Linked DNA regions of Homo sapiens: regions 1 and 2 are each linked to region 3. Evidence: fine-mapped expression QTL. A gene starts in region 3. Each other region holds a variant in brackets. All regions are shown on one strand. Distances are between the middles of the regions.

Region 1 (10,999 bases), 430 kb before region 3:
CGAGACTCTCCTTATCTAGAAACCTGGGCTGCCTCGCCACGAGCTCCCTCCTTTATAGGGTTGTGGTGAGGATGGAAGTGCCAAAAAGGAGCCGGCACACATGCTCAGTAAGTGACAGGATTTTTTCTTGAAAATCCTTTTCCATCTGGGAAAAGGACCAGAAACTCAGAACTAAGTTCACCTTAAAGGACTATTTTAATTGACTAAGTTAAAAAAAAAAAAAAAGTCTTTCAAAGAATGGTTTCTGCAACCAACTTCCTTCCTCTATCATGTTTCCCCTAGAACGACAGTGCCTTATGTAGTCAAAGAATAAGAGAATGTTAGAGATGGTGAATGGTAATGGTGTCTGGGCCTAGTTCACAATCTGAAAGATAAGCGCTGGTCAAGGAGAAGAGTATTCTGTCTGAAGATCTCAGCTGCAACCAGCAGAACCATAAATGCCCAACAGCCCACTGAGGCCACCTAAGAAGCCTGTCTCCACCCAGGTCCAGCTTCTCTCTTACACAATCGGCAACAGAATGACGCCACACAAGATCATTAAACATTTCAGCAGGAATAAAAACGAAACCAAGAGAATGCACCTGCCAATCTATATCAGGCAACTATGGGGTTTGTGAGCCGTCCTTGCACTTTAATGCAGAATTAGCTTTGATGCACAGATTGGAAAGGTCCAGCTTAAGGGACTTAGAACATCCCATTATTTAATTTTATGACACCATCACTCCACTCTTAAATGTGTCGAAGAACATACACTTATGTTACAATTTATGCCCAAGGGCCAGGTGCGGTGGCTCATACCTGTAATCCCAGCACTTTGGGAGGCTGAGGTGGGTGGATCACGAGGTCAGGAGTTTGAGACCAGCCTGACCAACACGGTGAAACTTTATCTCTACTAAAAATACAAAAATTAGCCGGGTGTGGTGGCACGCACCTGTACTCCCAGCTACTTAGGAGGCTGAGGCAGGAGAATCGCTTGAGCCCGGGAGGTGAAGGTTGCAGTGAGCTGAGATTGCGCCACTGCACTCCAGCCTGGGTGACAAAGTGAGACTCTGTCTCAAAAAATAAATAAAATAAAATAAAATAAAATAAAATAAAAATGTATGCCAAACTACAATGAATTCTATTGCCGAATTTTAAAAATATTCACTTATGATAATGTGGGGCTCACTAGAGTGTCACAAACTCCAGAATGAAAATTAGTGGCTTAGATTACAAACTCTCGTAGTAGAAAGGTCTAAAGACTCTTTAGAATTAAGCTTGAAAGAATCTGTGTTTCTGATGCTGAGAAGAGCATAGGGAACAGGTTGTACAATCAACCGCCTCACCCCAAAGCCTCCTTGGGTCCACTGCTTCCTCAGGTCGGGGTCTTACTGTTTATTCCACATCGTGGCTGTCCCTCTACCCCTCTAGGCTGTGTGACTGGGAACATGTAAGCTGGGATGCACGGAGGTCCAGTCTCTCCCTGAGTCATGCGCATCCTGTTCCTGCTGCCCTAGTTTTTTCTTGTGGGATACAATGTCAGTTCTGTAATCTGTCCCCTCTGTAGGGGTAAAGAGATGTGCTGACGTGCTCAGAAAAGGAACATGCTTCTCTGGATGCCATGAGGTACTAAAACACCTGTATCTTAAAGGGGCATTAATAAGAAGAGCAGGGATCCTCTCCTGGGAACTCAAGCAATCATTTAAACAGTGCTCTCATACAGCAGCAAATAAAGAGGTAAATGAGATCTGCTTAAGGTAACAGCAAAGGTGAGCGGTTGTATGCTAACTCCAGATAGGAGTGATGAATATCTGAACTGATGAATATCACTTAAAAAGTCTTGTCACATATGATCTGGATCAGAAGGCTGTGACATCACAACCAGATGCTTTGAAGGCATTTTCTCTGCTCCCTCTAGTTACAGACAATTAACAGTTCTGTACACTCTTACTCATCTGTTCCAGAAGGCTACTAATAAAGAGGTTGGGCTACTTGTTTTTCACTCCCAGCTAAACTTTCTGTCTCCTGCTGTGGGCAGGAATGGCAGTGGCATGTGACCAGCGTTCCTGAGTGGCAGAGGGCAACAGCTGGCCATCAACATGCCAGTCATGGGCACAGCTCTCAGCCGATGCAACAACCACATTGACTTCAAGGACAATCTAAAATTGAACTCAAGGCAGCACCTAACAAGTCTCTCGTGCTTGCACCTTCCTTCTGGGCCCATCTAAAAGCAGCTCTGCAGGGCGATTTCTGCCAGCCACAGGTCCTGTGTCCTCCATCTTCCTTCCTTGGAATTCCTAGCAAGACTGAGTCAAGCATGGCCTTGGGTCTATGCTGTTCTTTATGGGAAGCACCGAGGAAAATACATCTCTTGAATTATTCTAATTGTATCTTAGAATTTAACATGTTCACTGTCTAAAATCAAAATGAGTTTCACATATAAATGGGCAATTGAATTAATAATATCAACACCCATCACAGTGTAACAAATAACTTGATTATTAACTTCTACTGACAGCCCCATGCTTCCTTCCTCAAGAGTTTCAGACTGCCCGTTTGTGCTTTGTGCAGCTAGAGGGTTCCGAACTCTCAAGAGGCCTCAGGGAAAGTTGACTCTGTGCCTTAAGCAGAAATCACAACTGATCCAAGGGAGACCCTGGATGCAACTGCAAAAAACTGAATGGTAGCAGGGGCAGGCTACCACGGAGTTTTAAATCCTGCCTTACATTAACACAAAGGAAATACAGGAATTACCCAGATGCCAAAAGGACCCTGAAGAGTATCAGATAATGATGTACTTCCAGCTCCTGGTGACCAAACAAAACAATGTAACAAAACACAACCAACTGTGGCCTCAGAACGCCTGACCAGCTACCCGGAGAGCTTTTATTTCTTGAAGGGAAGCCTTCTACCAAACAAACAAACAAACAAACAAGAAAACACCACTTTGGCGGATGGATCACTAGGTCAGGAGATCGAGACTATCCTGGCTAACATGGTGAAACCCCATCTCTACTAAAAATACAAAAAAAAAAAAATTAGCTGGACGTGGTGGCGGGCGCCTGTAGTCCCAGCCACTCGGGAGACTGAGGCAGGAGAATGGCGTGAACCCGGGAGGTGGAGCTTGCAGTGAGTGGAGATCGCACCACTGCACTCCACCCTGGGTGACACAGCAAGACTCCGTCTTAAAAAAAAAAAAAAAAAAAAAAAAAATATATATATATATATATATATATATATATTTTTTTTTTTTTTTTTTTTTTTTTTCTTGGTTCACAGCAGTCAAAAGAACCACAAAGGAGCAGTAGTTTCTAAGCTTCCATGTAGGTGAAGACAAAAATTTTTATAAATTTCATGAATACTTATATCCCAACTGTTCAAAATATCAAGATATTTAAGAAAACTTGTAGGACTACAGTTAACTATTCTCTCCTCCAAATTTTTCTTTAGAATCAGAGAGACCAAAAATAAAAAAATTAAAAAATTACCATTGCTCCTATATAAATCATAAGAATAAAATAGAGCCAAGAGAACTTCTTAGGAACCCCTCTCATCCCAAGCCAAGAGATTCTTCCCACATTGGGCATTATCAATAATGAGAACATTCCTGAGATCCTATGAGCTTGTGTGGCCCTGTCTCATAAAGACAGTAAAGCCACACAAATAAGGGTTTCCACTCCCTGGGCCTGAGCTCTGAAACCCAGCCAAGACAGAATCCCAAACAGCCAGAGAGCTTCCTTTCTGAAGGCAGTGAACTGAACATACATTATTTAAGATGAATATCTAGAACTCTTACAAATGAAAAAGAAAAGGACAATCCATTGAAAAATAAGCAAAAGACTTACACAGGCCCTTCATGAAAAAGAAACACAAACAGCCAATAAACTCATTATAGGATGCCCAATATGATTAGTAACCAGGGAAATACAAACTCCTCAAATGCCCAAATTCTTTGTGTTGGATTTTCAAGTAAAGTTTACCTCAAAGAGTTAACACAGAAGACAAAGGTTTTGAAATCTACTATATATTCTCTCAGGGGAAAAGCTGCAACTTTGGGTGCAGAAGTAGTGTGAGGAAAGGAAAGAGGATAAAAATATGACTTGAAAGGACTTCACAAATAGAAAAAAGACGGATAAAGGGAACGTACTCAAATGGATTCAACACTATCTCATTCAAAATCCCAGCTGGTTAGTTTGTGGAACAAGACAAGCTGATTTTAAAAATTTTAAAGAAGAATAAAGTGCCACTAATCAAGACACTCTTGAAAAACAAGAAAAAGGTAGGGGACCTGCTAAGTCAACTATCAACAATTATCCTAAAGCTAGACAGTGAAGCACTGGAATAGACAGAGAGACCAACAGAACAAAACAGCTTAGAAACAGATTCACACTCTTATGGAAATTTCACTTTGACATAGCTGGCAACACAAATCAGTGGAGAAAAGGCTGGACTTCTCCAGAGATGACACTGGGACACCTGGTGATGTATTACAGAAACAAGTAAATCTGGTCTCTTTCTTTATGCTACACAATCACCAAACCCACGGACTAAGAACTTAAATACGAAAAGCAAAATTATAAAACTTTTAGAAAACAGTAAGTATAGGAGACTGCCTAAATGACCAAGAGAGATTTCTAACAAATAAAAGCTCAAAGTATAAAGGCTGATACATTTAAGGAGAGAGGATAAAATCGTTAAAATTAACAACATATTAATCTTTAACCAATCATAAAAAGTGTGAAAAGATAAGCCACAAGCCAGAAGGTATTTGCAACACACATTATTTAAGATGAGTATCTAGAACTCTTACAAATCTAGAAAAAGACAATCAAATTGAAAAGTAAGCAAAAGATTTATATAGGCCCTTCATAAAGAGGAAACACAAATAGCCAATAAACTCATTAAAGGATGCTCAATATGACTGGAAACCAGGGAAATACAAATTAAAATCACTCAGACATTTCAAGTTTATAATGTTGGTAAGCATTTTAAGGTCTGATTCTATCAAGTGTTGGCTAGGATGTGAAGTTACTGGAATTCTTACATACAGCTGGAAAAACAACAATCTGCTTTTCTTGGTAAAATAGCAGATACGCATACCTGTAACTCAAAAATTGTCTTAACTATACCCTAAAGAATTCGTGTGCATGTGTGCCAGTTGATGTGTGCAAGAAAGTTTACAGCAGAACTGTATGCAACAGCAAAACACTGGAACCAACTGAAATGTCCATCAACAGCAGAAAAGAGAAGGAAAAGACGCTCTATTCATACAAGGCTGTGAAGTACCACAGGATGCAGAGCTGCCTCTCGGGATAAAGGGGAATGAAAACAGCAAGGTGCAGGACATTTTTCCTCCATGACTCCATTCATAGGAAGTTCAAAGACATGCAAAACTAATATACTGTGTAGCAATACACATATATGAGGCAAGCCATAAGGAAAAGGAGGGGGGTTATAGCAGAATACCCAGTCTAGTGGTTATCTTTGCGTGGAAAGGACAGGGGATTGCACCGGAGAGGAAACAGTCTGTGCAATCTTTTTTTTTTTTTGAGACGGAGTCTC[A/G]CTCTGTCGCCCAGGCTGGACTGCGGACTGCAGTGGCGCAATCTCGGCTCACTGCAAGCTCCGCTTCCCGGGTTCACGCCATTCTCCTGCCTCAGCCTCCTGAGTAGCTGGGACTACAGGCGCCCGCCACCGCGCCCGGCTAATTTTTTGTATTTTTAGTAGAGACGGGGTTTCACCTTGTTAGCCAGGATGGTCTCGATCTCCTGACCTCATGATCCGCCCGCCTTGGCCTCCCAAAGTGCTGGGATTACAGGCGTGAGCCACCGCGCCCGGCCCAGTCTGTGCAATCTTAAGCTGCGTGGTGGCGACAGTTCACCGTGTGGCTGTTTTTATACCATACACAAATGCTATATTCTTTTGTAACTCTTCAATATTTAACTAAAAAAAATTTAAACCAGAAGATTGTCAAATATATTCCAATTCTGCATTTAAAGAAAGGTTTCTCTTCTCTACAGATAATTTGGAAATGATATGCAAGTGCTTCCTTGCTCATTAGACAGCTAGGTAAGGGGTTTAATGACTTCTCTTCCACCTGACCTCACTTTTCCCACTGCCACCTGCCCGCCCACTCTAAAGGTGCTGTCCGAGCTCCACAGCACACCCACTGCAGGGATACTCCCACTTGGGAGCACACTTCTGTGTCCCTGCTCTTCAAACCCAAATGACCTCCCTTCTCTTTCTTAGGATCACTGTTTTCCTGAGTATTGTATTATCTTTAGGAAAGTACAGTGCTTATGAAATGACACTTCTTAGAAAGACATGTGTCAGCTGGGAAGGGTGACATGAAATCTTCAAAATTATCAAAATCAGTCTAAAATAAGCAGAGCTGTGCTTCTAGATAAGGCCGAAAATGACTACTCCATAGGTGTCAACAGTCTCCAAATATAATCTACAGCACAAGTAGCCTCAGGGGTATGAAGAATATGTCTGTGAACTCATGTCAACCCACTCTCATGTCTGTGTAAAACCTGAAAAACTAAATACATACACGGGAGGTACTAAAACCTTCATCCCCAGCATCCACTGGCGTGTGACGTCAACGCCTTGTTCTTTATTCACGGCCATTTCAGAAACCTCTGTGCCACCCCGTCCATTTACTTCTAGATTTCTGCTGCTGTGCGGCTCAGTGGATGCCCCTACTTTAGGGAATCCCAGCAGGCGCACCCTAGCACGAAAAGCCAAGGTCACTGTGCCTCTTGTTTACAACAACACAAAAAAGGTCTTAGGCAAGACCCCCCTACCGCCACACATGCTAACAAAAAACCATGAGGAAGGGGTGGAATTCTCTTTGGTAACCCATGCTTTGCAGTCAATTTGAGGTTCATGTTGGGAGGAGAAGTCGGGGAGCCACCACGGAAGGTCGCATGGAGGGAACCTCACCACTTCCCTCTATAAATGAAGCCCCAACTGTAGTATGCGAATAAAACAATCCGTCAGCTAAGTGCACGTTGTTTTGTATACATTAATAGTTTTCCATTTGTGAGGAGAAATCAGGGCAGCAATGACGACCCTGTCTCTTAAACGCATCCACTTCTGCAAACAGTTCATCACCTCCAACCACCAATGGCCAAAGAGTATCTCCCCTAGGATCCTGTTCAATCTCTCTGTGGACCTGTCAAGACACAAAGCCAAACTAGACTGAATTTCTCTGGCAGGAGTGAAAATACATCACGGGTTAAGAACAAGAGTAGTTAGACAGTGAGGATGTTAACATAAGGAGGTGGGCATGTACCAGAAAAAGGAAAACCAATACCAGACACCTAAAATCCAAGACCTAGAAACAGTCATCCTGTGACCTGAAGCAGAGCCATGTGCCACAACCAACCACGCCACATCTGAACCCAGAGGCATCCTGTGACACATCTGACAAGAACGACGGCATACAGAAGAGCAGAGACCCCACTCCAGACAGCTACACTCATGTACAGAGAGGCCTTTGGCACATCTTCTGGCCAGTCGTCACCCCACCCCAGGTAGGGAAGCTGCTTATTTGGAGAGTGGAAAAAACAAACCTGGCATGCATGGTTCAGCGCCCTGGTAGTTTTGGGAGCTAGCTGCTCTTTTTGATCCTCTTCTCCAGGGTAGGCTCTTCCCCTGCCCACTAATCTATGTCCCATAGTCCGAACTGTATCAATAACTATAGGTAATATTTTGAACCCATCTCTCTTTCTTCAGAACTTGGGGAAGGAAGAAGGGGCACTAATTTATCAGCCTCATTCAGAGACCCAAACAAATAGTGAAGACAGAGCCCCAGAAACCTAAGTCCAAAATTCTCCCAACTAATTCCTTTCTATCTAGTAAATATTTTAAAACTATTTTTAAAAAATCATATTTATCCAGTTAAAAACTATGTACATTTTGAATCCATTCTTCCATAAAACAAACATACATCTCAAAACCAGCTATACAAGAGGGAACTCCTGATCTTCACTTCTCCCTCCTAAACTTACCTCCCCATCTTAACAAGCAGCACTTCCCCTACCCAGTGGCTCTGTGCCAGCGGGGGGTCCTCCCTGACGCTGTCCTCTCTGATTTGCCACTTCTGATTCAACACCAAATCTCACCAATCCTGCCTTCCAAAATATTATCTCAAAAAAACAAAACAAAACAAAAAAAACTTTACTTCTCTCTGCCTCAACTGCCACCACCCTCATCCAATCTCGGGGTCACCTTCCATGATCACACTGACTCCTACCTGGCGCTCAGTTTCCACTCCCCTTGACCTACTACAACCCAAATTCCACACTGTGTCTTAAAAATAACAAAATAAACAGGAAAACTGATGTTACTTCCCTGTTTGAGATTCCTTATCAACTTGTCACATTCTCAGCACAAAACTCTAGCAAGGTGTTCAACAGCATGGACTTTAAAGCCAGACTGCCTGAGAGTAAATCCCAGCTATGGTATTTCCAAGTTGTACATACTTGGGTAAGTTACACAGCCTCCTATCTATGTGGTCAATGAACCGATGTATGTAAAGCACTGAGAACAGTGCCTGGCACCTGAGAGGCCCTCAGGACATCCTATTACTGCCATGGAGCACACAAGGTCCCCATGACCTGACCTCTCCCCATCACTGTTACTTCACCCCTCTCCATTCTCCTTTTTGCTCCACACACTCCAGCTACACTTACTTTTTCAGCTTCCCCTGAGTTCCAAGCCTATCCTTCTCCAGGGCCTCTGTACAGGCTGATCCCTTGGCCTGGGGGGCTCTTCTGATTCTATCCTTCCCTCCTCATCTCTGGGGTCATAACTGAAATATCTTCAGATATTCCTTTCTTAAGTTAGGTCCCCCTGTTATGATTTCTCATAATACTCAGCAGATTTCCATTATTGCACTTATGAGAATTTATAATTATATATCTAATTATTCACCTAATCTGTCTTCTTCATAGAATTAAAATTCTAGAGGCCGGGCATGGTGGCTCACGCCTGTAATTCCAGCACTTTGGAAGGCCGAGACAGGTGGATCGCCTGAGGTCAGGAGTCCTACACCAGCCTGGCCAACCCTGTCTCTACTAAATAATATAAAAATTGGCTGGGCATGGTAGCAGGTGCCTGTGATACCAGCTACTCGGGAGGATGAGGCATGAGAATCGTTTGAACTTGGGAGGCAGAGGCTGCAGTGAGCCAAGATCGCGCTATTGCACTCCAGCCTGGACAGCAGAGTGAGACTCTGCCTCAGAAAAAATAAATAAATAAAATTCTAGAAACCAGGGAACATGTCTTTTGTTTATTGCTGCATTTCTCACAACTCACACAATGTTCAGCATTCTACAGATCTTCAGTAAATATCTGTAAGATGAATGAGTATAAAGAAATCTAATAACAACTTGACTTACCTTGTAAAGAAATAACCTAAAAAGCCATGTACATGCTCAAGAGGTTTCAGGTTAATGACTCATTCTTGAGACCAAAAAATGTCACAGAGGGCATTTGTAAGAAATAGAAATAAACAAAATACACAATTGAAAAAATAAAAAAAGGTGAATCTAACAAAATCCTTTTTTAAAAAAATCCTTTTATGCTTATATTTTTACCTAACCTGGAAAATGAATATCTCTATCTATATATCTCTCTGTCTATCCATCTATCTATCTAGATAAAAACAAACTTAGCCAAAACTTTTTCCTCTCCCCTGGGTCTCATTCTTCATTCCTAGCTTTCTAAAAATTCAGCAAAGACAAAACATTTGCCTTTTCCTATCAACCATAAACACCCACTTTGAACACAGCCAGTATCTACCCCCACCCCTCCATCTAGGAGCTTTAATTATGGCCCTGAAGTACGCATAACTCACACTAGCAGTAGAGTCCATCTATGAGGGACGTGGAGGCCCTCAAGAGATATGGTCAGCATCTGTTACGCCAGCACACCAGAGCAAACATCTGCTGCAAGGTTGTGCTGAAAACATTTCTATCAAGTGGGCCATCCTGTCTGGAAGATTACCAGCCCTGGAGGGATGTTTGCGAGCAAAGTTTCAGCTCTTCGTGAAGCAGCCCTCTGACCAAAGCAAGCGATACAGAGTGCTGCAGAGAACACGATGTGCATTCTCTGGGGGCATTTTCAAGGGTTTCCATTTCATAGAAAATGAAAGGATTCTAAACCATGTAGAGACGGTGGAAAATATAGTTGGATACTACCCAATGAAGATGTGCACCAAAATACCATGATGAAGTTTATCCTGAAAGTAGGAGAAGGAGAATGTGGTGGGCTTACTCATGAGAAGGAATAGCAAGGTGCTCAGATTGGACTTCTGCAGGGATTCGTCCCCAAGTTCCCAAAGACTCAACCTACCAAGAAGGAGGCTACTTTGCCAGAAACTGTCCTACACTTTATAGTACTTGATCTTACCTTTCCAGATGTTTCTGTGAATTTTTTAGTCTAGTGCACCATCAGTTCACCAACTGCTCTAGGAAGATCCAAATACAACAGTTCTTATTTCCGCCTCCATCAAGGGTAATAAATGCCAAGTAAGATGCAGTATCCTATTTAGCGTGGCCTGTGTGACTGGGGGCCCAAAGCCAGGAACCATAGCATCCACATCATCTGGGCCTTTCTGATTGGACCGTAGCATGACAAAGAGCAGTGGCTTAGGGGACCCTCCTTTCTCTTGCTGACTCAATCTAAACTGCTCTGGGTGAGCACTCCCCCTTTCCAAGTCCTGTTTAATTCTACTCATAAAATGGGGTTGGTTTTCTAACAGCTCAAGGTGTTTTAAGAATAATACACAGTGTTCATAAAGCATAATGGGCATCTCCCAACAAATGGACCCAAGCGCAGGCAAGGTCCATTTCTGGTTATTTCTGTTATCAATATTATTTGAAAAGCATAGGTAAGATAAAATAGCAACCCTCAACTCTGATGCATCCAGAACTGGGCAACTACATAATACAGAGACAATTTACATGAATGAAAGTTTAATGGCATCAAATCAACTATGGATTACTAGTATCCA
Region 2 (10,999 bases), 380 kb before region 3:
AGTACGTCCAAACTATCGGTCTGCTAGTTAGTTAACAGCCTCCACAATTGGGTTCCCAATCACCTACACCACCATGTAGTGAAGTTAGTTACTGCAGTACCCCATCCTGATTCCTTTCCCTGGGTTTTTACCAATGCCTTTCTCTCTTACCCAATCTAGAATGTCCCCTCTTCACTTCTGCTTATTCAAACACATCAACTCAACTAACATTCATTGAGCCCTCATTCTAGTGAACACACTGTGCAAAGAGCACAGCACGAGGCACTGAGTGAACAAGGAGCACAGCACGAGGCACTGAGTGAACAAGGAGCACAGCACGAGGCACTGTGCGAAGCATGTTCCAGTTTCAACTCTATCCCTACACAGAGTCCGCTCTGCTCTCTCTCCCTTCTCTGAAAAACAACAATTCCTGTTTATGACTAGAATTAATAAGCACTTCTGCCATTAAAAGGTCTATAGATCTTCCACCAAATTGTGGATTCCTTTCCAGCAAGAGGTGAGTATTTCATGTCTTGTGTAATCTTCAGAGTGCCTGGCAAACTGTAACCAAGCAATATGATAACTGTTGGGTGGCTGCATGGGTATTGTTTTTGGTCCTAGAGTTCTCCCTGAAACATAATACATGTTTGGTAGGATGGAAACAAAATTTCTAATCAATGTTAGATTTGTTTCTTTTTTTCCAAGAAGAATGGAGAAGTAAATCATATTTTAAAATGGGATTGATTACTTGGACTCTCAGTGCAGAAAACACTGTTTTATATCTATTCATCTCAGAGGAATAAAGGGTGTGATACTTCTTAAGGTACTTCTTAAGATACTTTAAAGGAAAGTTTACATATATATACACATATACATATACATATACCCAAACTTAAACTCTTGAAATAAAAGCACATGTCGGAGATTATATGCTGTATGCTGGATATCCATGAGGAAAATTTTCCCACAAACAACCTGGCATGGTTCAGTAACTAAATAACTACATCCCCCGTACTGGTAACTAGCCCTATCTCAGGACTACTGTGTTCCTGGGTGCAAGATGGGTGTCTAGGCCTCCACCATCTTCAAAGCCTCAATTTCTATGTCCCTGGTTCTCTTAACAATGGAACAGTCGTAAAGCAGGGTAGCCTCTTGGTCCTACAAAGAGACAAGAGGAGGACTCAACTATTTCCAAAAAGACATCTTGTCTTGCATGCTATGTTTTGTCAACTGTCTTAAATACCTTTAATATCTAATAACACCACTTCCACTTGGTTCTCCCTCTCTGGACATGTGTCTTTGAAATAAATCCTAGTTTCAGCACACACAAAAAAGACCTGTTTCCCAGGCTAGTCCCAGAAGATTCTATGGTAATTACAACAGGATCCCAAATCCAAGCCCTCTGAGTAACAGTCCATTCATTTCTTTTTTTTTTTTTTTTTTGAGACGGAGTCTCGCTCTGTCGCCCAGGTCGGACTGCGGACTGCAGTGGCGCAATCTCGGCTCACTGCAAGCTCCGCTTCCCGGGTTCACGCCATTCTCCTGCCTCAGCCTCCCGAGTAGCTGGGACTACAGGCGCCCGCCACCGCGCCCGGCTAATTTTTTGTATTTTTAGTAGAGACGGGGTTTCACCTTGTTAGCCAGGATGGTCTCGATCTCCTGACCTCATGATCCACCCGCCTCGGCCTCCCAAAGTGCTGGGATTACAGGCGTGAGCCACCGCGCCCGGCCCCATTCATTTCTAAAAGAAGTCCTCTCTAGGGTCAAATATGGCAGCTGTTTAGCTGACACAGAGGAGTAATACCAAAGAGTTCTCTTTTCTGTTTCCTTTCTTTTCCTCTTTTTCCTAATCTTCCAAAGGCCAAAGAGAATGAGAAGGAGCACTTGGGAAGGTAGATCTAATATAATCCTGCCTGGCTGTTCTACCCTCCTCAGTTCATGAGTATCATGATAATGGACAGCTCCTGGTTTAAATCATTGTTTTATTCCATCACCCCACCACTAGCAACCCCCAGTTAAGATTAGCTATAGAAACATAACACAAAGGGTGACTGAAGCGCCAGGTCTTTCAGTGTGTGAGGCCAGCAAGAGTCCAACAGCCCCTCAATGTCCCAGCTGACTCTTCTGATGATATGCTCAGAAATGTCTACAGAAGCTGAGCAGCTGCCAGCTCAACACACCCTGCCACACCTGCGCTATCGGTGGAATCAGAGAATGAGAAAGCTAGAAAGAAGCTTTAGAGAACTACGCTGGTTGAAACCCTCATATTACTGATGAGGACCATAAATCATTTAACTGAAATTAAACCAACAAATCAAACCACACATACCCACAAAATCTTTACATTTGTGACAAACTATATTTTCTAGAGGTGGCCACTCCAATACAGATTCCATCCCACATGCTCTAACAATGTGATAATGACACTCCTTCATTGACAGGTGGGTCTCTCTGTTCTCTCCTCCTGAGCCTGGGTAGACCTTTGTAACTGTCTTGACCAACAGAATGTGACAGAATGATACCAGGTGACTTCTAAGACTACATCATACAAAGCAACACAGCTTCTGCTGGGCTCTCCCTCTCTGGACACGTGTCTTTGAAGCCCTGAGCTGCCAGATTAAACAGTCCGGCTTGCCTAAAGTCACCACGCTGGAGAGACCATCAGGGATGGAGAGGTGCTACAGAAACCCTAGCTATTCTAGTCCCCAGCCATTTGAGTCTTCCTAGCCCAGACTCATAAGTGAAGAAACCTTCAAGATGATTCCAATACCTCCTATCACTTGACTGCAACCTCGTGAAAGCCTAAGCCAGACCTGCACGGTGGAGCCATTCCTAAATTCTGGTCCCACAGAAACTGTGAAAGATAATAAATGATCATCATTGCTTTACATTGGGCTAATTTTTATTATCAGGGGTAACGTGTTACATAGCGATAGGCAACTAATACAAGATTCATTACTAAAACCACTAAAAACTTTAACCTGTTAGTCACTATTAATTTAAGCAAACAAATAAGCAATCTTCCAATGATGCTTCCCCAATTTGCATGCCTCTCTATAACCTTACTCTGCCTTCATTTTAAGGCCTAGCTCTTATCACCATATGTGATATGATTAGATAACACGATATAGGCTACGTTACTGAATATATGAGGAAAGGGCCTTTGTTTTGTTCACTATTATATCCCCAGCACCTAGAACAGCACTTGACAACATATAGCAGGTGCTTGACAACCACTGGTTCAGTACAAGAATGTATCTGGAGATGATTGGGCTTAGTGTTCCTCCAAGGCTATTTGACCTCTCATCACCTGTTCTCCAGTTTGACTCAACGTCTCTTAATATATATTCACTGCACTGTTAAGTTTCTAACTCTCTAACTACTACTGACAAAACCATTAGATGTTCTTCGTTCAAACCCACTAGAGGAACTACACCATCCCCTCCGTGATGCCAGCTCAGCATCCAGAGTAGAGCCAGTGATTTCCTTTGTCAACACACCTGCATGCCAAAAACCCTTCCCAGGAGGTCTCAAATATCAAATAAAAGTTACTCCATTTTTCATTCAAAGACCATGTGCCCAATGGGAAAATGACCTCATGTTGTGGTTTAAACAGCAACTGCACCCACTAGCACAGCCCATTGAGCTATCCTATATATACATCTCTGTCAGTGCCCCTCTGGGTCTAGATAATTACACTGAGTACACTGAAGTCCTTTCATTATTGCAGGCCCAACAAAAAGTACTGCCACTGGGTGAATATCAGAAAGCATGCATCAATGCACTTTCAAGTCAAATGAGAACTGGCTAGTTAAGCAGCAGCATTAACAGATGTAGAGATTGTGCCAGCCAAATGCCTCTTGCCAATTATGGCCACACAGCTACGCCCAAATTAAAAATAACCCAACACGGCCAGGTGCACTGGCTCATGCCTGTAATCCCAGCACTTTGGGAGGCTGAGGCAGGCAGATCACGAGGTCAGGAGTTTGAGACCAGCCTGGTCAACATGGTGAAACCCCAACTCTACTAAAAATACAAAAATTAGCCAGGCGTGGTGGCGTGTGCCTGTGATCTCAGCTCCTTGGGAGGCTGAGGCAGGAGAATTGCTTGAACCCGGGAGACAGAGGTTGCAATGAGCTGAGATTGTGCCACTGCACTCCAACCTGGGCGACAGAGCGAGACTCAATCTCAAATAAATAAATAAAAAATAAATAAAATAACCCAACACTCATAACAGAATCCAAATGGGCATGGGAGGCTCCTTCTCTCCCTACAATATCACCCTACAGTCGCTACATAAATGCCCCTGTAAAGTGGCTCCTAAGTTATGTCATTAAAATGTTCACCTTTCCTTGGCAAAGTAGATCTCAACACAGGAGGAAAGAGAAATAAGCTAAAAAAAGAAATGTGGATTGTCTAGAAGTTACAAGGGAACAAAAAAGTAGAAATCCTCCGTGAGAGGATTTTGCAAAAACTGTAATTAAAGGAATCTAGACCAGTGGTTGCCCGATAGAAATATAAGCCAAAAATGTAAGTTTTACTCTTCTAGTAACCATACTTTAAAAAGAAACAGGTAAAATTAATTTAAATGTTTTATTTAACTAAAAAGATCAAAAATATTATCATTTCAACATGTAATCAATATAAAAGTTAGTAATGAAATATTTTACATTCTTTTTCTTCCTGCTCAGTCTTTGAAATCAGTGTGTATTTTACACTGACCGTGCATCTACACTTGGGCCAGCACATTGCAGATGCTCAACAGCCACAAGAGACCAGTGGTTACCACATTGGAAAGCACAGGTCTAGAATAATCCTAACTTCTTTTTTTGTAAAATACTGAAACATCCAAAGCACTCCAAGTTTTCTATTAGGGAGGCAAAATAACTATACTGTTAGAATCATGGGCAACGATATCATAAATTCCTAAAATAAAACCACATAGGGCCGTTATTTCAAATTACATAAAACTTGTCTTCTAGAAGAATTCGACCAAATGCCAAAGTTCTTAAGATCTGCCCCACTTCCCAAACAAGGGAAACTGAAGACCTCGACCAGCACCAGGGCCTTCCGTCAGCTCCTGATACAGGAGGGGCTCCTGGATTTTGTTTCCCCTTC[T/A]TGACAATACAACATGGGACTGGGTTCCTCATTTGACTCGGTTCATTTAAAGAATGATCTCAAAGAAGAAAGGAAAATCAATGACCCCTTTAGGAAATGTAGTCCAGGGTGGGGGTGGAGGAAGCATTTCAATGACAAAAGCCAAACCTCAGTCATAATGCAGATCCCTGTCTAACAGGTGATCATTGTTTTTTTTTTCTATTACAGGCACTCTGGTCTCCCGCCTACCCCATGCAGGATGGCTATCCCCATGCAGAATGGCTGTGACTTTCAAGAGAGTCCCCCAAGGGAGGGTCCCAAGATCAGGGGCTGGTAATGGGCCCCACCACAAGGCTACGCTGCTGGCTTTTGTTTGGAACAATAGCGCTCCCATGATACCTCACTCTTGCTGACAATATTGGTAATACGGGAGCATGAACACAGCTGTGTGTAAATTACACACACAAACAGATTAGATCTGTATATTTATAAGGAATACAAACATACTAATAGCTCATTTACATACACAGCTGGATACAATGGGCTGCATGCAGAGGGGAGTTTGAGTTCCAAAGTATTTCTCTAAAATTTTACAAAAAGAAATGCTCAGATTACTGCTAACCCAGGCTGAGACTTCTGCTCCCCCCACCCCCATGCAGTATGTCCCCCGAAATAGAGTCCTTTTCATCCTCGTTTGTGATATTTGAGATGCTATGAAGGAGAAACCTCAACAAGTGCTGTTAGATTTCACTTTTATTATTATTTATTATTATTTTTAGAGACAGGGTCTTGCTCTGCCACCTAGGCTACAGTGGTATGATCACAGTTCACTGTAACGTGGAGCTTCCGGGCTCAAATGATCCTCCTGGCTCGGCCTCCCAAGTAGGTCAGACTACAGGTATGTGTCAGTTACCATGCCCAGCTAATTTTAAAAATATTTTTTTGTAGAGACGGGGTTCTCACTATGTTGCCCAGGCTTGGTCTTGAACTCTTGATTTCAAGCAATCCTGCTGCCTCAGCCTCCCAAAGAGTTGGGATTATGGCATGAGCCACTGTGCCCAGCCAGATCTCACTCCTGTAGGAAAAAAATCAATATAGGATAATTTTCAGTTAAAAAGATGTATATACATACGAAGAGGGAGACCTACTAAAACATCTGTTACAACAGCATATAGTAAGGCAGAATCTTTGCATTTTCAAAATGTTTTCATAAACTTTATTTGTTAGAGCAATTTCAGGTTCACAGCAAAACGGAACAGAAGGTATAGGGATTTCCCATATAGATGGGTCTCTGGATTTTTCAGCTAATTTTGAAAAATAGGGAAAAGAGCAATCAGCATTTTGTGCTCACTACAGTAAACCAGGAACACAGGCATCAGGAGAGCTGGGCTCTGATTCAAAGGCCTGATTCTAGCAAGGCCTCACAGTTTACTTCCGGCTAGCCATGAACACTCTCTGCGCCTGAGGTTTTCGTGGAAAGACAGCATCACAAGTACTCAAATGTAGCGTTTAAAAGTACTAACTTTTAAAATGTTGAATGTTCCAGTAAAACAGTTAAAGAAAAAAAAAGGTAATAATCCAACTAAGTAAAAATATTAACTTATACATATCTGGATAGATGATAAGCTCATTACAGGCCCTAATTTTATTATTTAAAATGTTTACAACAAAACTCTCTAATTGATATTCTCCCTCTCTCTCTCTTTTTGCCTTGATATGGTTTCTATAAACTCTTGGTTTAAAAAAGAAAAAAGGTCCATTTCTGAGGCTTGGGTTTACTGTACTTACAGTTCCACCAGTAAATCGTCTCCCAGTCTGGGCTGGAGAAGCGCTGGCCACGGTTTGATTGCTCCAGCCCCAGGTTGCCAGGCAACCCACACAAGGGGGAAGTCTGAGAACCGCTGACAGATAGCCAAGTGGCTGAAACAACAGACTTCTCTCTGTCAAAAATGTGTTTGAGAGAGCCACTTGCCCACCTCTGCTCTCTGCTAAACACTACATGATTGTAAAATCAAAATCAAAAGGCCACTGTAATAAAAACACACTTCCTGCTCAATTACTAATTGTTCTAAAGCTGTGGGGAGGCCCAGATCCTACAGTGTATGGCAACAGAAATGCGATACTGTAAATGAGATAAAGCCAGCAGCATGCAAGAAACCTGATCTAAATGCATCTCCGTAGCTTCAAGTCAGGAGAGCTGGTGTGTGGAGGAATCAACTGCCTAAGAAAACACCAGGAAGAAAATAATGAATGTCAAGATGTTAAAGAAACAAACCAATCAATAACTACGAAGCTAGAGGTCAAGACTACTTAGTAATAAAACCAAGAACATTCTCCATTGTTTTGAAACACAATCTGGAGGCAATGAAAGTTTTCTCCCTCAGATGGAAAGGAGGAGCAAGAAAGGTCAATGACCCTTGGGAACCACACCCCCTGGCGGTTCCAGGTGGATTCCCTGATACTTGACTGTAAATGGGATTACAGGAAATAGTAGCATCCTTAGGATAATGCAGGACAATAACAGGTCTGAGAGTCTAATGCAACATTTAAAATACCTATGGTGTGAGCTGGGCACAGTGGCTCACGCCTGTAATCCCAGCACTTTGGGAGGCCGAGGTGGGTGGATCACCTGAGGTCAAAAGTTTGAGACCAGCCTGGCCAACACAGTGAAACCCCGTCTACACTAAAAATACAAAAAATTAGCTGGGCATGGTGGCAAACGCCTGTAATCCCAGCTACTGGGGAGGCTGAGGCAGGAGAATTGCTTCAACCCGGGAGGCAGAGGTTGCAGTGAGCTGAGATCGCGCCATTACACTCCAGCCTGGGCAACAAGAGTGAAACTCCCTCTCAAACAAACAAAAACAAAATATCTATGGTGCATGTACCAAGCCAGTAACATTGTGCCCAACACCAACTCTATGCAGCATCCTTCCATGAAACCACTGTATTGAAACTGTCATCTTGGACTCTGGAAACTATTTGTAGTATGTGGAAGGGGCCAGCACTGAGTGCACAGTTCTTTATCTCTTCTGTGCCATGGACCCTTTGGCAGTCTGGTAAAGCCTGACTCCTTCTAAAAATGGTTTATGGCCAGGCACGGCTCATGCCTGTAATCCTAGCACTTTGGGAGGCCGAGGCAGGCGGACATGAGGTTAGGAGATCGAGACCATCCTGGCCAATATGGTGAAACCCTGTCTCTACTAAAAATACAAACAATTAGCTGGGCGTGGTGGCGCATGCCTGTAATCCCAGCTACTCAGGAGGCTGAGGCAGGAGAATCACTTGAACCAGGGAGTCAGAGGTCGCAGTAAGCCGAGATCATGCCACTGAACTCCAGCCTGGCGACAGAGCGAGACTCCACCTAAAAAAAAAAAAAAAAAGGCTGGGCACGGTGGCTCCTGTCTGTAATCCCAGCACTTTGGGAGGCCGAGGCTGGCGGATCACCTAACGTCGAGTTTGAGACTAGCCTGGCCAACATGGTGAAACCTCGTCTCTACTAAAAATACAAAAAAAAAAAAAAATTAGCTGGGCATGGTGGTACATGCCTGTAGTCCCACCTACTTGGGGAGGCTGAGGCAGGAGAATCGCTTGAACCCAGGAGGCGGAAGTTGCAGTGAACCAAGACCATGCCACTGCACTCCAGCCTCGGTGACAGAGGGAGACTCCATCTCAAAAAAAAAAAATAGAAAGTATGCCAGAGTAATATAACTGCTCTATGAACACACTAAATAACAAGAGCTAGCAGAGGGTTTTCTTTAGCTCATGCAGGTTTTTTGTTTTTCGGGGGGGTGGGGGGGCTGTTTTGCTTTATTATGTGACCTCAGATGATAAACCCTTGGAGGGCAAGGACAGCAAGTTTTTCATCATTCAATTTCCAGTGCAATATGCAGCCCGGTTTCCTGCCCCAAGCTCCTAAGCTAGCCCTCGTCACACCACTAGCCCAGCTCCTATGGGGGCGTGGGTTTCCTTGACTCTCCCAGTGCCCAGAAGTGGGCCTGGCATATAAGATGTGTAAGACCATAGTCCGCAAAATGGGATGTATGGACACAAAAGACATTTTTTTCCTATGTTCTCTTTCCAACAATCCATCAGCCTGAGAAGGCACACGCTCCTGTGAGGGGATGCAGCCTCTCTTCTTCTATCCCCACCACTGCCCCCCTCTCACTTCACAAAGGCAGCCTCCTCTCCCCCGCTCCCATCTGGAAGGCTACCAGGCAGCACTGCCCCAGGGGCACTGAACAAGGGGACAATTTAAAACATTGACACTGGTGCTGACACAGTGCCTAGCTCTGAGGTCAGGATGAGAAAGACTCCACAAGTCAGACATTTTCTGATTCTCTGCTTTCAACAAAACACAAGGAGGTCCTAGTGGAAGTGTCATCTGATAGATTGCGGAAAGTCATATCTGACGACAAATTATACTTTTGGCATTATTATGGAAAGAATTCAAATAACTGAGTGACACTGTAACAAAACTATCATTCCCATCTACTTACTCACATAAACAAGGTTTCTGGGCACTTACGTGTTTAAAAAAACCATACAATTTATTTCCAATAAATGTTAAGCAAAAATGAAAATTATATCAACATTTACATTATTTCGTTGTTTTCATCAACTGTGCTCTAATAATTATAATTTGAAAAAACATTTCTTCTATACTTAAGAGCTTTATTATTAAAGGAAATAACCATATGCCCGATTTCAATACACACACTTTTTGTTGCAGGGAAGTACTAAAGGTCAATCGGACACTGGACTTTCAAACATAAAATGTATCATCTTAGTATAAAGTCCCTGGGGAAGTAGAATGGAAATAAAAATTAAAGGGGGAAAAGGATAAGATGCAACATTGGACTGCTTTTAAAAAATGAACTTGTCGGGCATGGTGGCTCACACCTGTAATCCCATCACTTTGGGAGGCTTAGGTGGGCAGATTACCTGAGGTCAGGAGTTCAAGACCAGCCTGGCCACCATGGCGAAATCCTGTCTCTACTAAACATACAAAAATTAGCCAGGCATAGTGGCGCACGCCTGTAATCCCAGCTACTCAGGAGGCTGAAGCAGAATTGCTGGAACCTGGGAAGCAGACGTTGCACAGTGGACCAAGATGGTGCCGCCACTGCAGTCCAGCCCAAGTGACAGAGCAAGACTCCATCTTAAAAAAAAAAAAAAAAAAAGCTTATTTTAAAAATAGATGATAGTTCTTGCTCCTCCTTTCATCATGTGATGTGCCTGCTCCTACTTCGTTTTCTACCATAAGTAAAAGCTCCCTGAGGCCTCCCCAGAAGCCACACAGACGCCAGCACCGTGCTTGTACAGCCTGCAGAATTGTGGGCCAATTAAACCTCTTTTCTTTATAAATCACCCAATCTCTGGTGTTTCTTTATAGCAATGCAAGAATGGCCTAATTCGGAAAATTGGTGCCAGGAGTAGGGTACTGCTATAAAGACACCTGAAAATATGGAAGCAGCTTTGCAACGGGGTAATGGACAGATGTTAGAAGAGTTTGCAGGGCTCAGAAGAAGACAGGAAGATGAGGGAAAGTTTGGAACTTCTTAAAAGACTGGTTAAATGGTTGTGACCAAAATACTGACAGTGATACGGACAGTGAAGACCAGGCTGAGAAGGTCTCAGATGGAAATGAGGACATTATTGGGCACTGGAGCAAAAGTCACCCTTGTGATGTCCTAGCAAAAAAGATGGCTGTGTTGTGTTTCTGCCCTAGGTATCTGTTGAAGTTTGAATTTGAGAGTGATGACCTAGGGTATCTGGTGGAAGAAATCTCTAAGCAGCAAAGTATTCAAGATGTGACCTGGCTGCTTCTACTAGCTTAACTCAAATGTGGGGACAAAGAAATGACTTGAAGTTGGAATTTATACTTAAAAGGGAAGCAGAGCAAAGAAGTTTGGAACATTTGCAC
Region 3 (5,000 bases):
TTCAAAGGAGTCCTGGGAAGTCACAAAGTGTAAATACTTCTGGTAACAGAACAAATTAATGTCGAAGCACAACCAGTAACATAATAATGCCTCAATGCAACCGTGCCTGTCAAAGGACATCTGTATTAGCAGCTCGGGGAAGTGGCATTTGCAGAAAGGCACAACAACTGCGCTTAAAAGAAAATCATTAAGCCTCAGCCATTAATCCCCTCCCCCATCCTCTTCGTCTGGATCTTTCCAAACAATTAACCAGTAGAAGGTGCTATTCTGCAACCCACATGTATTCACACCAACCTCCATCCTTGGGCCACAGCTGGGTTTATCCCAGGTGGACTAGCCTATTCCCTGTCCAGTATTCAAAGGAGCCCCCTAAACAGAAAACCAGATCTTTTCTTATAACCCTTATTTACAAAAACAACATTGACAGCTCAATTGCCAGCAAACCTGACCATCAAACCATCACACCACTAAAAACATGCAAACATCATCTTGCTAAATATTAACCTCAATACAACCTTTATAATATTAATCAATAAAATCTATTTCTATCTAGAAAGACTCTGCTCACATTCACTACTAAGACTCAAGTGAACAAATCACTGTCCCCAACAAAATCAGGGTCAATGAGAAATACAAAAGCAATGAGAGCTGAACGTAAGGCCACAACATATAAAGAGGGATTTTATCTTTACATATACAAAAAAGAAAGAGCAGCAGAAACCACGGCTGCAAAAGGAATAAAGGGAGGCAGAGAGAAGAGAAGTCTCTGAACATGTTTTTGAGTGTCCTTTAGTTTCCAATGCACTCTTCTGCCTCACAAGGTTGCAAAAACGGCCAGGCATGAGATGGGTGGAAGAAAGCTGTAACAGAAAAGCACCCTCCCTTCCCCCATCTTCTCTCTTCTCTCCCAAAAAGAGCTGTGTTTGTCTGTGCAAACCTAGTCCCAAATATGGGAGAGAGAGAATGAATGTGTGTATGGAAGAACAATGAGCCCTCAGCTTGGTATTGTGTGTGTGTGTATGTGTGTGTGTGTGTGTGTATATGTGTGTCTGTCTGCCTCTGCCTCTTTTCCCTTCGACCTCAACAACAACAGGGAGAGCTGGAAGCCAGCTTTCCACCCATCCCAGGCCATCAAAATCAAAACTGGTTGATAATTTACAGTAGTATTAACTCAGCAAGCAAATCCATGGAACAAAATATCAACCCAAAGATGATTTTATTATTGTACAGATCCAGCTTCTCTCCCCTCCCCCAACAGACTGAGACTAAAAAGACCAGTGTACACTAGACAAAAAGGTCTCTCTTTAAATGGAAAGCAATTATGAAAACTGTTTCAAATCTTAGATGCATCAATTCCTGCTATATTAAAATGTCTATTTTGTAATTCACCAAGTTCACCCTCTTACTAGTTATCTTTTTTTGCGTTTAAAAATTCGCTGTGAAGAAGGCTATTTCACGATTCATACAAAACTACTTTCTAAATGTACCTTAAAAAAGCAACAGATACTGAAACATTTAAAGCACCCAGTTTCTCAAGGACCCATTTTACTTAAATCAATGTTTGAAGTCTGTAATCCAGAAAAATTGTAAGCAAACCTTGGAAAAGAGACAGAGGAAAATGACAATTCAACAATGAATCATTCTGTTTTCCTTTCAACAACTTCTCAAGCAACCAGTTTCAAAGGAAGCCTGCAACACTTTTCCCCCCTCCTAGCAGACACACATACACACGTGTATGTAAAACTACGAATCTTTCCATCATCTTAAAAATTAGTAATAAATAGAAGCCACCCTCCTTCAGAGAGCAGAACTAAAACAGGATAGTAAGAATTCTATTCTGCTGCAAGTGACTTTGGGTTTCATAATTTTCTAATCACATACAGCTGAGAACTAGAGATTGGGAGCACAAAGAGGAAATCTTCCCCCAATGAGAAAATGATACTTTAATAATAAAGTCCTCCCCCCAGCACCCCGAAATCCACAAACATTCAAGAAATTTACAGTTTCAGTCCTTGACTTCCTTCCCTTCCAGTTTCAGCCAATAATGTAGTCACATGAAATAGTTTAACCTCAAACAAGTAGAACAAGAGCATGAATAAGAGGCCAAGAGAGAGCAGGGGTCAGAAGGCACGCAGGAACGGTCACCTGGCCCGGACAGGACCAAAGAAGTGCCCTGCCCTCGCCCGACTCCCCTCGACTTCGGCTTCGACCCCAGCCTTTTCTTCCTGCCTCCCCCCGGGCGAGTGACTGCTTTCACGGCCGACCCTCTCTGACCACCAGGACGAGGGGCCAAAAAAGAAAGCACACGACCCGGCGCGGGCAAGTTGGACACTTACCTTCCCCTAAAGCGCTACACCATCAATAGTGAGGTGTTCGCGGCCCAGCTCCGGGGAAAGTGGCGGGGATGGGGCGGGAGGCCGCGCGGAGGCTGCGGGGCCGCGGGGCGCAGGGCCGAGAGGGGCGGCCCGCGGGGAGGCGACGCGGAGGGGCTGAGGGGGCTTCCCTGCCGTGACCTTTCCTGCGACTTGAACCTAGGCTCCCTCCTCCTCGGTCGGGCAGATCTTTCAGAAGCAGGAGCCCAGGATCATGTCTGGTTTTGTTTTCCGAGGGCGAGGGGGCTCCCTGAGGATGATGGTGATTTTTTTTTTTTTTTAATCCTCAACTAGGAGAGAAAATGAGGCAGAGACAATGTGGGGAGCGAGAGAGGGGAAAAGGACGGGGGAGGAGGCGGGGACCGAGGCCCAGCGGGGCGAGCGTCTCGGGGTGTGCGGGAGGCTGAGGAGGCTCCGGAGCGCGGAGGGTTGCTCGCGAGCGTCTGTGGGAACAGCGGCACCTCCGCGATGGTGGCGGAGCCGCGGCGGAGCTGCTGCACCGACCCGCCGCCCACTCCCCGCTCGGGCCCGGCCCACCTCGCAGTATCGCGCCCCTCCATTGGTACAGCGCGGTGTGACGCGGCCGGGGGCCCGGCCAATGGGAGGCGGAGGAGGCGGGATCTCTTTTTCCTTTTTTTTTTTTTTTTTTTTTTTTTTTTAATCTTTTTAATAAAATGAGCAGAGAAGAAGGCGGAGAGAGGCCGAGCCTTGACAACGCCGCGGCCCGGGGCTCGAGGGCTCGCGCTGCAGGCGGCGGCCAGAGGCGGTGGGCTGGGCTCCCGCCGCGGGCGCGTCTTTGTGAGAGTGCGAGGCCGGCCCTCCTCCGCCGCCCGCCGCGCTCCAGTACCGCCCCCCGCGCCCCCCGGGCTGGGCCGGGCTGGCGGCGCGGGCAGGTCCCGGGTGGGGTGGGGGGAAGTCCGGTTGATCTTGCTGTTACCCGGGTCTTAATTGGCCTTTTCAGTCATTAGGACGCGGATCCATGTTGCTGCGGGCTACAGAGTGGGTGTAAACCATTCTCATATGGACTCTTTCGAAATTCTGATGAGCGGCTTGTAATATTTTTCAAATAGTGTACATGACAAAAGATGAATTACAGAAAGAAAAATAAAAGTGATAAGTCGCACTGCTTATTTGAAAAGAATAAAAAGTGTCATGAAGGCATAAAGGAGAGACTGTACAGGTACAGAAGGGATTTTAGAAAGAGCAGTGTACAACTCTATAAGGTACGTGTGAAAAAAAATCTAAAAAGAGGAAAAGACCAAACATCACCTCTTTTTCTTTGAAGAATGAAGTATTGTGTCCCACTTCCCGAAAGCCTGATAATCACAGGGTCTATCATGCTGTAAAGGGAGTAGGGGCAGGCCAAATGATCATATTCTAGTTCATATAATTTATGGGATTGAGGGGTTTGGAAATTTCAATTATGATTAGCAGTTTTTGAAATGCACATCATGTTTATTGAGTTCTTTCACAGAGCCTGGCACGAATCCAGGGTGAATCATCAACCTATTGTTGGTTTGTTAATATTCTGTAAATGCTTATTGGTGTCCTTATACCATACACTCTTCCCGAAGGAGTTAAGGTCCGTATAAAATAAGGGGTAGAAAACGTAGCACAAAATAATTCACTCATCTGTTTCAAAAGAAGTGATAATTTTCTCCTTGGAAAATCTATTCAGATTATAATTTCCACATTGAATTATTCATTTTTTTTTTTTTTCTGAGAGGGAGTTTCACTCTTGTTGCCCAGGCTGGAGTGCAATGGCGCGATCTCGGCTCACCGCCACCTCCGCCTCCTCAGTTCAAGCGATTCTCCTGCCTCAGCTTCCCGAGTAGCTGAGATTACAGGCATGCGCCACCACACCCAGCTAATTTTGTATTTTTAGTAGAGATGGGGTTTCTCCATGTTGGTCAGGCTGGTCTCGAACTCCTGACCTCAGGTGATCCGCCCGCCTCAGCCTCCCAAAGTGCTGGAATTACAGGCGTGAGCCACCGCACCCGGCCCACATTCAATTATTCTTTAAAGAATAATTTGGACTAACAGATACTATTGGACCATGACCCAAGAGATCTTAAAAAAAAAAAAAAAAGCCATAGATCCTTGCCATCACATTTCTGAGTAACTTTCAGCAAGAAAAATCCTCTTTGCTGGAGTTATGAAATGGGGAAACTAGTTAATATCTCTTTATATATCTGATAATGTGAGAACTGAATTTTAAAACCTAATAAATTCAATAAACTGCTTCCAACATTCTAGATATGGATAGGACTATCTGACTTCCTGTTTGGAAATGATGAGGGATAAAGTATATCAGTTAGATGGCTTCACTTTCCATCAAAATCTCTATCTACAGGAGCATTCTTTCTTTTTTTTCTTTTTTTTTTTTTTGAGACAGAGTCTCGCTCTGTTGCCCAGGCTGGAGTGCAGTGGCACGATCTCAGCTCACTGCAACCTCCACCTCCTCGGTTGAAGCGATTCTCCTGCCTCAGCCTCCTGAGTAGCTGAAATTACAGGTGTGTGCCGCCACACCCAACTAACTTTTGTAATTTTAGTAGAGATGGAGGTTCACTATGTTGCCCAGGCTGGTCTCGAAACTTACAGGAGCATTATTTCTAATAAAGATTCAGC

Alleles and levels. Positions count from the first base shown, and alleles are read on the strand shown. Sizes are in standard deviations (SD) of each study's normalised expression. Not every link is listed here.
As copies of A replace G in region 1, the expression in visceral fat of the gene that starts at base 2,817 in region 3 goes up (small effect, 0.29 SD a copy in GTEx).

Evidence for each region. PIP is the estimated chance that this variant, and not a neighbour inherited with it, causes the effect. A credible set is the group of variants that fine-mapping cannot tell apart.
Region 1: its variant is the best candidate, but not a certain one, in a credible set for the expression of RERE in visceral fat (GTEx, PIP 0.67).
Region 2: its variant is the best candidate, but not a certain one, in a credible set for the expression of RERE in T cells (TOPMed, PIP 0.81).

Annotation. Positions count from the first base shown.
Region 1 is chr1:8,382,803-8,393,801 of GRCh38, forward strand. All of the region lies in intron 12 of RERE (arginine-glutamic acid dipeptide repeats), which reads right to left. Among named protein-coding and RNA genes, the nearest start is that of RERE-AS1, 36 kb to the right of the region's middle. The variant A/G (reference allele first, on the strand shown) is at 5,542.
Region 2 is chr1:8,432,150-8,443,148 of GRCh38, forward strand. The region is part of intron 11 of RERE (arginine-glutamic acid dipeptide repeats); the gene reads right to left. It overlaps RERE-AS1 (RERE antisense RNA 1), which reads left to right. Exons shown (of 4, transcript NR_125999.1): 4 at 2,484-2,867. Among named protein-coding and RNA genes, the nearest start is that of RERE-AS1, 13 kb to the left of the region's middle. The variant T/A (reference allele first, on the strand shown) is at 5,098.
Region 3 is chr1:8,814,824-8,819,823 of GRCh38, forward strand. RERE (arginine-glutamic acid dipeptide repeats) reads right to left here and starts at 2,817. Exons shown (of 23, transcript NM_001042681.2): 1 at 2,337-2,817. RefSeq lists silencers at 2,415-2,474, 2,725-3,024, 3,125-3,354 and an enhancer at 2,767-3,061.